2 separate regions of the Homo sapiens genome follow, and region 2 is linked to region 1. Evidence: fine-mapped expression QTL. Tissue or cell type: monocytes. Region 1 holds a variant in brackets; the other region holds the start of a gene. All regions are shown on one strand. Distances are between the middles of the regions.

Evidence for each region. PIP is the estimated chance that this variant, and not a neighbour inherited with it, causes the effect.
Region 2: TRABD starts here. The variant in region 1 is fine-mapped to the expression of TRABD in monocytes (Quach 2016, PIP 0.95).

What each region holds. Positions count from the first base shown.
Region 1 is chr22:50,047,267-50,052,519 of GRCh38, reverse strand. It overlaps TTLL8 (tubulin tyrosine ligase like 8), which reads left to right. Exons shown (of 14, transcript NM_001350317.3): 4 at 2,273-2,411; 5 at 3,198-3,271; 6 at 5,224-5,253. Among named protein-coding and RNA genes, the nearest start is that of TTLL8, 8.4 kb to the left of the region's middle. The variant AG/G (reference allele first, on the strand shown) is at 2,144.
Region 2 is chr22:50,183,440-50,188,439 of GRCh38, reverse strand. TRABD (TraB domain containing) reads right to left here and starts at 2,527. Exons shown (of 10, transcript NM_001320485.2): 1 at 2,464-2,527. RefSeq lists silencers at 789-838, 1,779-2,088, 2,355-2,724, 2,995-3,094, 3,285-3,354 and an enhancer at 4,240-4,815.

The DNA.
Region 1 (5,253 bases):
AGGTGTGTCTGTTATCTTCATTCATTTAGTACGTTCCTTTGGTTCAATTTTCCTTTCCTCTCCTTTCATGTGCTCTCCCGGACTGGTTACTTTTTAAATCCCCCTTTCCCCTCTCTTACCTGTTGGAAATCTTACGCTGTTTTTATTCCTTTGGTGGTTTCCTTAGGAATTGTATTCTGCCCATCCATTTTTCTAAAGTTACTCAGTTTGACCACAGCTAAGCAGGGTGTTGGGGGTGGCAGAGTGTCTTGTGGAGTCGGAGGGTGCCAGCCCTCTTGCGGACTGTCCAGCTCCCCCACCGTTCTCCCCAAAGCCTCGGGTGATAGGCTCATTCACGTGCACAGCCACGTGGGCGGGTGACAGGCCTCAGACTGATTATCGGAGTAGACAGCGGCCCAGAGCGGTGCTGGGACCAACCAGATGTCTCGTGTGGGTGCTGGGACTCAGACTCGGGGTTCCCAGAGAGGTGCTGGGACCGACCGGATGTCTCGTATGGGTGCTGGGACTCAGACTCAGGGTTCCCAGCTACAGCTGTAATTGTGCCGCTTCGTCCGCTGTGTGCCTGGGTGTGGGCATGGTCTTCTTTGAGCAGATGTCTTCCTGCCAGAGCACAGTTTGTCTCCTTCTGCTTTGAAAACTCCTCTTACAGAAAAATAATCAACTTATTTTTCAATTCCTTGACTTAAAATACTATACAAACAGCCAACAAACGTGAAAAAGCGCTCAGCATCACTAATTCTCAGGGAAATGCGAATTAAAACCACAATGTGATACCACCTTCCTCCTGCAAGAATGGCCATAATGAAAGAGTGAAAAAGTAATAGAGGTCCGCGTGGAAGTGGTGAACAGGGAACACTTTTACGCTGCTGGTGGGAATATAAACTAGTGCAACCACTGTGGAAAACAGCGTGGACATTCCTTAAAGGACTAAAAGTAGATCTACCATTTGATCCAGCAACCGTACTCCTGGGCATCTACCCAGATGATAAGAAGTCATGATACAAAAAAGATACTTGCTCACGCATGTTTGCAGCAGCTCAGTTCACAACTGCAAAAATATGGAACCAATCAAAATGCCCATCAACCAACGAGCGGATAAAGAAACTGTGGTGTATCTGCACCACGGAATACTGCTCAGCCATAAGAAGGAACCAGATAATGTCTTTTGCAGCAACCTGGATGGAGCTGAAGGCCATTCTTCCAAGCGAAGTAACTCAGGAATGGAAAACCAAATATCGCTTGTTCTCATAAGAGGGAGCTAAGCTATGAGGATGCAAAGGCATAAGAATGATAAGATAGAGTTTGGAGACTTGGGGGAAGATTGGGAGGGGAGAGAGGGATAAAAGATTACATATTGGGGCTGGGCGCGGTGGCTCACGCCTGTAATCCCAGCACTGTGGGAGGCCAAGGTGGGCAGATCGCCTGAGGTCAGGAGTTCAAGACCAGCCTGGCCAACATGATGAAACCCCATCTCTACTAAAAAATACAAACATTAGCCAGGCCTGGTGGTGTAGCAGGATGAGCCACAGACAAAACTCCTCAGACACCGGATTAAAGAAGGAAGAGGTTTTCATTCGGCCGGGAGTGTCAGCAGACTCGCGTCTTAAGAACTGAGCTCCCAGAAAAGGAAATTCTTGGCCTTTTTAAAGGCTTACAACTTTAAGGGGTCCACGTGAAAGGGTCGTGATACATCAAGTAAGCATGGGAAACGTGACTGGGGGCTGCATGCATCAGCTAACAGAACAGAAAGTTTTACAATGCTTTTTTCATGCAGTGTCTGGAATTTACAGATAACACAAGTAGTTTAGGTCAGGGGTTGATGTTATTATTATTACTTTTTTTAACTCCTAGGGCTGGGTGGTGGTGCCAAGGTTGTCTGGCTATTTATCTTACTTTTCTTTTCCCCCAACTTTTTGCTCTTTCTCTCCTCCTGTCTTGTGAACTAGGCAAGGTGGGGGAGGAGGGCAGCAGGAGTAGTAGTGGTCTCCTTCCTTAGTGGCAGGCACCTGTAATCCCAGCTACTTGGGAGGCTGAGGCAGGAGAATTGCTTGAACCTGGAAGACAGGTTGCAGTGAGCTGAGATTGCCCCACTGCACTCCGGCCTGGATGACAGAGTGAGATTCCATCTCAAAAAAAAAAAAAA[AG/G]GACATATTGGGTGATGGGTGCCCCCAAATCTCAGAAACCAGCACTAACAAGCTTATCCATGCAACCAAAATCTGCCTATTCCCCAAAAATGATTGAAATAAAATAAAATATCCTCTTGCCATTTTAGGAGAAGAAGATTTTCTCTATCTACGGACACTACCCGGTGGTCCGGGCCGCTCTGCGAAGGAAGGGCTGGGTAGAGAAGAAGTTCCACTTTTTGCCCAAGGTCATTCCGGATGTCGAGGATGAAGGCGCCCGGGTCAATGGTAGCGTATCGGAGGCGCACGTCTCAGCTCAGGGCGTGTGCGTCTGTCACGGGCAGGAGGAGTCGGCGCCGGCCTGAGTGTGGTGCCTGCCCCTCGGCCCTGGTGTGCGTGATGGGGTATCTCCGACCCCAGGTCTCCATCACCCTCCTGGCCTCCCTGCCCCAGGCGGTCGTGCCAGGCAAACCCTTTCAAGCCCCCAGCCCTGCTCCCTTCTCAGAGTCCCTGTGGCCTCCACCCAGGCCTCCTCCTGCCCGGGCGGTTTCTGTCATCCTCTCTCCGCCCGGCCTCAGCTGTCCCTCCTCCAGCCCCAGGTCCCTGAAGTCCACTCCTCAGGCCCCCGTGGTGCTGGCTGCTCCTCGCTGACATCTGCACAGCTGTGTCTGCATCCTCTTGGCCCCATTGAGACCCGGATCAAATGTCCCCCTCCTCCTCCACCCCTGCCTGTGGCCCCTCAGCCTCTATCACTCCCACCCCCATCCCGGGCTGTCTCCACCATTCCACACCTGGGGACACCTGGGCCTCCAGGAATCCCGGGCCCCCAAGCCCTGTCACAGCCCTGGGGAGGTGCTGTGCGGTGGACGCTCATTGGATGTATGGGGGCTGCCAGAATGCCCCAAGCCTGACTCAGGACCCACAGAGGCTCCTGCTCCACCAGGGGAAGGCCCCATCTGGAGCCAGGTTTCTGGAAGTAAAGTCGCTGTCCTGCCTGCGGTTGTGGTAACGGACCCGGTGCGGGAAGTCTGGCTGAGGCTTCATGTTCAGGCCTCCCCTGTGTTTTGTTGGCAGATGATACATGTGCCAAAGTCAAAGAAAATCAAGAAATGGCTTTGGAGAAAACAGACAACATCCACGACGTGATGGTACGTCCCCTGCATGCGTCATGGTCAGCTGCGGCCTCTCCAAAGCTTCTCACACCGTCGCCCTGCTCCGTGCCCACTCTCCCATGTCCTGGGGGGATGGCAGCCCGGCGAGGGCAAAGCCCCAGTCACAGCAGGGCCCCTTGACCGGGCAGCAGGGCCTGGCTGCCCCCAGGGGTGGGGCGAGCCCTTCGGTGCTGGATGAGCCGCTGTGTAGTGGGTGGACCCGGTGCTCCCAGCTCCCCTCCACCCACACTGGGCTGGCCTGCTGTGCGCATGTGGAAGCTGAGGGCACTGAGGCCCGGCAGGGCTCGGACAGCCCGGCTGGTGTGTTGCAGGATGGGGCCTGGCCAGCGAGTGAGCTCCTGTCTCCAGCAACACAGTAGTATGTGCCTCCCCACCTCCCCAGCCCAGCCTAGTCCCTCCGGGGCTCCCAACACTCCACCATAAAGAGGGCGAAAGAGAAACCAGGGTGGGAGGCGGCATTTGCAGTACTTAAAATTTAAAAGATCAAATGTCCAGAATATATGAAGAACTCACAAATCAGTAATGAAAAGACAAATAGAAAAATGGGCCCAGATTTGATGAGGCGCCTCCCACATGGCCAGTGAGCTCGCCCTTCCAGGTTCCTGGAGTCAGTGCCATTCCTACAGAGCATCCTGGGTGCTCCAGCGGCTCCCACAGGTCCGTGGGCAGTGGTGTGGACACATCAGAACATTCCTCACTGTTCTGGAGGCTGGAGTCTGGGTTGGGGCAGTGTGGCTGGGTGCTGTGAGAGTGTCCTGCTTCATGGACGGCTGGCTTCTCTCTGCGTCCTCACCCAGGGGCGAGGGTTTTTCTGGGGCCTCTTTTATAAGGGTGCTAGCCCATCATAAGGGGCTCAGGCTCATGACCTAATCCTAAAGCCTCCTATGCCATCGCCCTGGGGATGAGGATTGTAGCACATGCATTCCAGAGAGACAGAAACATTCTGCTCATTGTGCCTGGAGGACAGACAGAAGCAGGTGGCAGTTACCGGGTGGGGGCGGCTGGGGGACTTCGGCTCTGTTGACGATGCTGTTTCTCACCCCAGTACCCAGTGGTTAGTGATTAGTATGCTATTATTTACACACACACACACACACACACACACACACTTTTTTGGGGGGGTGTTTTCAGATGGAGTCTCACTCTGTTGCCCAGGCTGGGGTACAATGGTGCAATCTCGGCTCACTGCAACCTCTGCCTCCTGGGTTCAAGTGATTCTCCTGCCTCAGCCTCCGGAGTAGTTGGGATTACAGGCGCCCGCCACCACGCCCGGCTAATTTTTGTATTTTTAGTAGAGACGAGTTTCACCATGTTGGTCAGGCTGGTCTTGAACTCCTGGCCTCAGGTGATCTGCCTGCCTTGGCCTCCCAAAGTGTTGGGATTACAGGCGTGAGCCACTGCACCCAGCCTGGTTGGAATTTTGACTTAACACATGCCATTGTTATAAACAGAAAAGCACCAACAACAGGCCCCCAGCTCCACGACCAACCCCTCTATCAGCAGGGGAGGAGCGGGAGGCCAGTGCCTGGGGCTCAGGGAGGGGTGTGCAGGGCCCATGGTACAGGCCTGGGGGCTTCGGTCCTGGGGACTGTAAGCTCTGGGTTATGAAGTGTCGTGTCACCTCGGCAAGTGGCACGTCCCCACACCCACGTAGACCCCATGCGGACGGCTCAGACCCCACCTGCAGCCCCACATCGGGGTGGCCCCCCAGAGCCCGAGGCCCCTCTGTGGAAACCGTATGTGGTCCTGGTTGCGCCCCACATCCCATGTGCAGGAGGCCCACAAGGAGCACTACTGCCTGCAGCAGAGCCCGGCTGGGATCCTCACGCTGCACGCCATTTGTCCTCTGATGGTTGCCTCACTCCATCCCATCCTGGCTGGTGTGAACCTTGAATGCTGGGCATCAATAAAGACTTTTTTCTTGCCAGTCTAGGTTGGTAAAAAATGAGATGCCGTAC
Region 2 (5,000 bases), 140 kb before region 1:
TGTTAAGTTTTTTCCCAGCACCAGTGAGGCATGGTGGGAGGAGCCTACTCGCTCACAGCCCCAGCTACTCAGGAGAGGCTGAGGTAGGAGAATTGTCTGAGGTCTGGAGTTTAAGACCAGTCTGGGCAACTTAGCGAGACCTCATTTTTTTTTTATTTGAGACGGAGTGTCACTCTGTCGCCCAGGCTGGAGTGCGGTGGCGTGATCTTGGCTCACTGCAACCTCCCCCACCCTGAGGTCCAAGCGATTCTCCTGCCTCAGCCTCCCGAGTAGCTGGGATTACAGGCGTGCGCCACCACCCCCAGCTAATTTTTGTATTTTTAGTAGAGATGGGGTTTCACCATCTTGGCCAGGCTGGTGTTGAACTCCTGACCTTGTGATCCACCTGCCTCGGCCTCCCAAAGTGCTGGGGTTACAGGTGTGAGCCACTGCGCCAGGCCAAGACCTCATTTTTGTTTTTGAGACAGAGTCACACTCTGTTGCCCACGCTGGAGTGCAGTGGCATGATCTCGGCTCACTGCAAGCTCTGCCTCCCGGGTTCACGCCATTCTCCTGCCTCAGCCTCCCGAGTAGCTGGGACTACAGGCGCCTGCCACTACACCCAGCTAATTTTTTGTATTTTTTAGTAGAGACGGGGTTTCACCGTGTTAGCCAGGAAGGTCTCCATCTCCTGACCTCGTGATCTGCCCGCCTCGGCCTCCCAAAGTGCTGGGATTACAGGCGTGAACCACCACACCCAGCCCAGCCTGCTGTTTTTTAAAGTTTCCTGGTCTGTGATGCTTTGTTACAGCAGCTAGAGCTAAGACACCCATCTTATCCCCTTCACCCCACTAGAAACTGCCTCCCAGACTGCAGCCTAGCTTCCTAGTGCAGACCAAAAACTGGCTAGCACCAAATGCAGTTACCAGAAAAACCCCCATCTCTCAACCAACCCACTAGACCGGCTCAGAAAGCCCAGGTTCCAAACTGGTCAGACCTGGGGGTTGCAGAAATGACAAACTTGGAGGGACCAGGGTGTGGCCCAGAGCTTTGACCTCCCCTGCTTCCTGTTTCTGATGCCTGGCACCTTTGGCCACAGGAAACCCCTCCCGGCTTTGGCGGGACCGCTTCACGCAGGTGTGGCAGAGCTGGGAGACGGGAAACACACCTGAGCCAGAGCCCGAGGCCTCCTTGCCAGCACACCTGGCAGCCCCCAACCTCCCAGGACCTGGTCACAGTCAATGCAGAGCCCCCACACTGACCACCATGCAGGGGGCCCCACAGGCTCCTGCCACCCACCCACCCTGCCAGGCCCCCTCCTCGGACCCCACAGCATCAGGGCCTCCGGCGAGGCTGGCCAGCATCCCCACCAGTCACACTGCAAGGGCGGCGGCAGCAAGCGGGGAGCAGAGACACACAGCGCAGTGAGCCTGGCGGCCTGCACGGCCTCTTCAGGGACCTGAAAGCTAGGAGGCTTCCATCTGGAGGCTACCGAGGCTGCGGGAGTCCCCGCAGGGAGCTTAGCACCTCCACAAGTTCCTGGTTGTTTCTGGGACGCTAGTGCCCAGACAGCTCCCACTCCATCTTTCTTGTAAGAGTTTTGACAAAGACACACGGCAGCTTCATGATAGCTCAGTTAAAAAGACCTTTTAAGTTTGGGCTGCGCACAGCGGGGGACGATCTGGCGTCCACTTCGCCCATATGGGAACCCCGCTCTGCTCCAATTGAAGGGCAAAGGCACCTACAGAAGAGCGAAGCCCCAGGTTTCAGCGGGGCCGGAGGGGACAACGGGGGTCCGGGGCCTCCCGCTCGGCCTCCCCCAGCACCCCCAGAGACCCGCAGGCCTGGGCCGCCTTCCTCCACTCTCACCTCGGCCGGCTCCACCGCAGGCGGCAGGCGGGGGTGGCTGGGGCCCTCCCGACCCGCGAGGACCCTGGGACTCGAGGTCCGACCCGCGCCTTCCCGCGAGGCCGCCGCTGACCCTCCCCGCCCCAGCCCTGGGGGGCTCCGCTCCTCGGCAGCGCCGCTCCCGGCAGCGGTGGCAGGGGACGCGCGGGGCCTGCTCCCGCCCCAAACCTGACCCGGGCCTGACCCCCACGACCTGCTCCCCCGGCTCCAAAACCTGACCCGGGCCTGGCCCCCCCAACGACCTGCCACCCCGGCCCCCAAACCTGACCCGGGCCCGGCCCCCAACGACCCTGGTCTACCAGCCCCAAACCCTGAATCTGACCCTGGCCTGACCCCCACGACCTGCTCCCCCGGCCCCAAAACCTGAACCTGATCCGGGCCTGACCCCCACGACCTGCTACCCCGGCCCCAAAACCTGACCCGGGCCTGACCCCCCCCGCCCCCGGCCCCCACCCCCCGACTCGGGCTCGCTCCCCCCGCCCCCCACAGTCACCCCGCGGCCCTGACCCGGGCCCGCCCCCCGCTCGGTGCTGGGCCCCGTCCTCACGCACGCGCCGTCCGCGCCGCGCGGCGTACCGAGGCGAGGCAGCGGCGCTCCTCAGCCGGCCTCCATGCGGCGCGGGCCCTCAACGGACGGGGCGGGCTGGGGCCGCGGGGCGGGGCGGGGCGGACGGGCCGAGGGCGCCGGCGGCCGCGTGGCATGCCGGGAAGTGTAGTCCCACGCGCCTCCTGCTTGGCCCCGGCCCGCAACTTCGGACTACACTTCCCAGGGGGTAGCGCGCGGGGCCCCCGCCCCCCCCCCCCCCCCCGGCGCTCCCGGGTCCTAAGGAACATCGGCGCGCACTCAGGAGGGAGGGTTCGAGTCCCGCCGCGGTCACGGCCTTGCGAGGCGCGCCCACGTTCTCTGGTCGCAGCTCCCAAGCTGTGAAATGGGGACAATGCTCGCACGGCGTCCACAGGATGGTTTTCAGTCGAATGATATTGAAATGTAACTGTTCTGTGAGCCGTCAGTCCCGCACGAAAGGGACAGCCGATAGTGGGACGCGAGGAGCCGAGAACACGGGATCAGGGAACGCGCTGCCATGGCCTCGGCCTGGCCCCCTTCCCTCTGGGGATCGGCCTAGTCCGTCCTCCGGGGGTCGGCCCAGAGCGGTCCCCGACCCGGGACTCATGCCTCAGCGGGACCTCGGCCTTGCCGCAGGTTGGGGCACCCCGGGAAGGTCGGGCCCCAGGGGCCCCGCGGCCAGCCTAGCGGACGGAGAACCGGGACCAGGTGGGAGTCTTAGGGCGGGCCGACCCCCGGCCTCACGGACCCGGACGCTCAGTCACTTCCGATCGTCCGGAGGCCTCCAGGGGGACCCGGCTGGCCGCAGCCACGCCGACGCTAGACTCTCGCTGTGCGTGTTCGGCCCCGAGGGCAGGGGGAGACGGCCAGGCCCCACCCGCCGCGCCCGTCCTGCCCGGGCGCCCGGCCCCCTCGCTGTACCCAGCCTCTACCGGGGCGGCCGGGACCCGGCGGCCAAGTTGCTGCGCGCTGCGGGCACCGGCGCGGACGGGGGCCCGGGCGCTTCGCCGCCGCATGCAGACGACTCGCTGCCCGCAAGCTGCTGCGCCGTCCGCCTGCCCCGCTCTCCTGCAATGGTCCGGCCGCGCATCCCGGGCCCACGACTTCCTTCCTCCTCCACGACCCCGGGTTCTTGGCTGACCTGGCGCTGGCGCTGGGCTTAGTGCAGGCGTGGGCCTGGCAATGGTTTGCCTGCGGGCTGCATGCGCGGACCCCACAGCCAGCTCCCCGAAGCTCTGCGCCCACCTCTACGGCCCTGCCCCAGCCAAAGGATCAGGTTCTTGGAGCGGGGCCTGCCCTGGGGCCAGGACTCCAGTCACCGGGGGAGGGCTGCTGTGTCTTCCTGCCAGGCACTGATGAGTTAGTTGGGGAAAGGGGCCAGGTGGGGCCAGCTGGGGAACCATTTAGAAGAGGGAGGAGGGCGCACCTCTCTACTCGAGTGCCCTAGGACTAGCTCCTCTCTGGAGCCACGGGGAGGACCTCAGTGAGGGCTGCCCCACGCAGGAACCTTCAGCGAGCCTGGAAGGCTGACCCAGCAGGCCTGGGGTTGGGGGAGTCCAACGCAGCGCCCAGGCTTGGTCTGGGTCTGCCTGAGGCCGTCCACCAGGACTCCGTGCTGGGGAGCCTGCTTCCTTCCAGGCTCCAGGAAGGGAGGCCCCGGCCCCAGCCCCAGGTTCTGAGGAGCTGCCCCGGCTCGGGTGGCCTGCAGGGGTCCCCTCAGGTCCCTGGTCCTGAGTCTGCAGGTGGTCCTCCCGGGGTGGGGCGGATGGGTGAAAATGCCTGTCCACACGGCAGCAGGCTGGGCTGGCTGCCCACTGAGCATTCTTACACAAGAGGCCCCGCCCCCTCCTACAGCTTCCTGGTCCCCAAATGGCCAGGCCTGGCCTTAGAGAGGCCTCTGTCCTCCTTGGTGAAGGACACTCACTTTGGGCCCTAGGGCCTCTGGTTCACATCCTCTCCATTGATTCTCATTGTTCGCTGCCTTTGTGGTCATTCTGCCTTTCCGACCATCTCGGCCACATCCTCACAGGAGGGCAGCGGGTGGCAGTCGCCCCGGCTCCACCTCACCCATTTCTCAGTGCTGGGCTGGTGTGGAGGGAAGATCCCTGGCCTGGGGGCTGGAGGCCTGGGTTCTCAGTCTTGGCCATCTGGGATGGGTGCAAGGTCCTCCTGGAGCCCCTCCTTCTCCATGAGAGGGACGGTTCTATCCACCTGCCAGGCCTGCTTATGCTCAGGGAGGGGGAGGGGCAGGAGGGGGCACTATTTCAAACCAACGCTGGCCCCCGGGCTGCAGAACGACCCTCTGACTCACCTGGGCAAGGTGGCCAGTTGGGGAGGGGAGAGTGTCCGAGATCCCAGCCCCCGGTGGGCAGCAGACAGTGGAGAAGCAGAACTGCCCTCCGATCCGGCTGGGGTCCCCTGCAGGGCTGCACTAGGCTGTGAGGGGCGAGAAGCAGAAAAGGGGGAGATTGAGTCCTCAGGGAGCGTGCTGGGGAAACTGAGGCAGGACCTCAGCCGCAGGCCCTGGGCCACCACCCACATCTCAGGC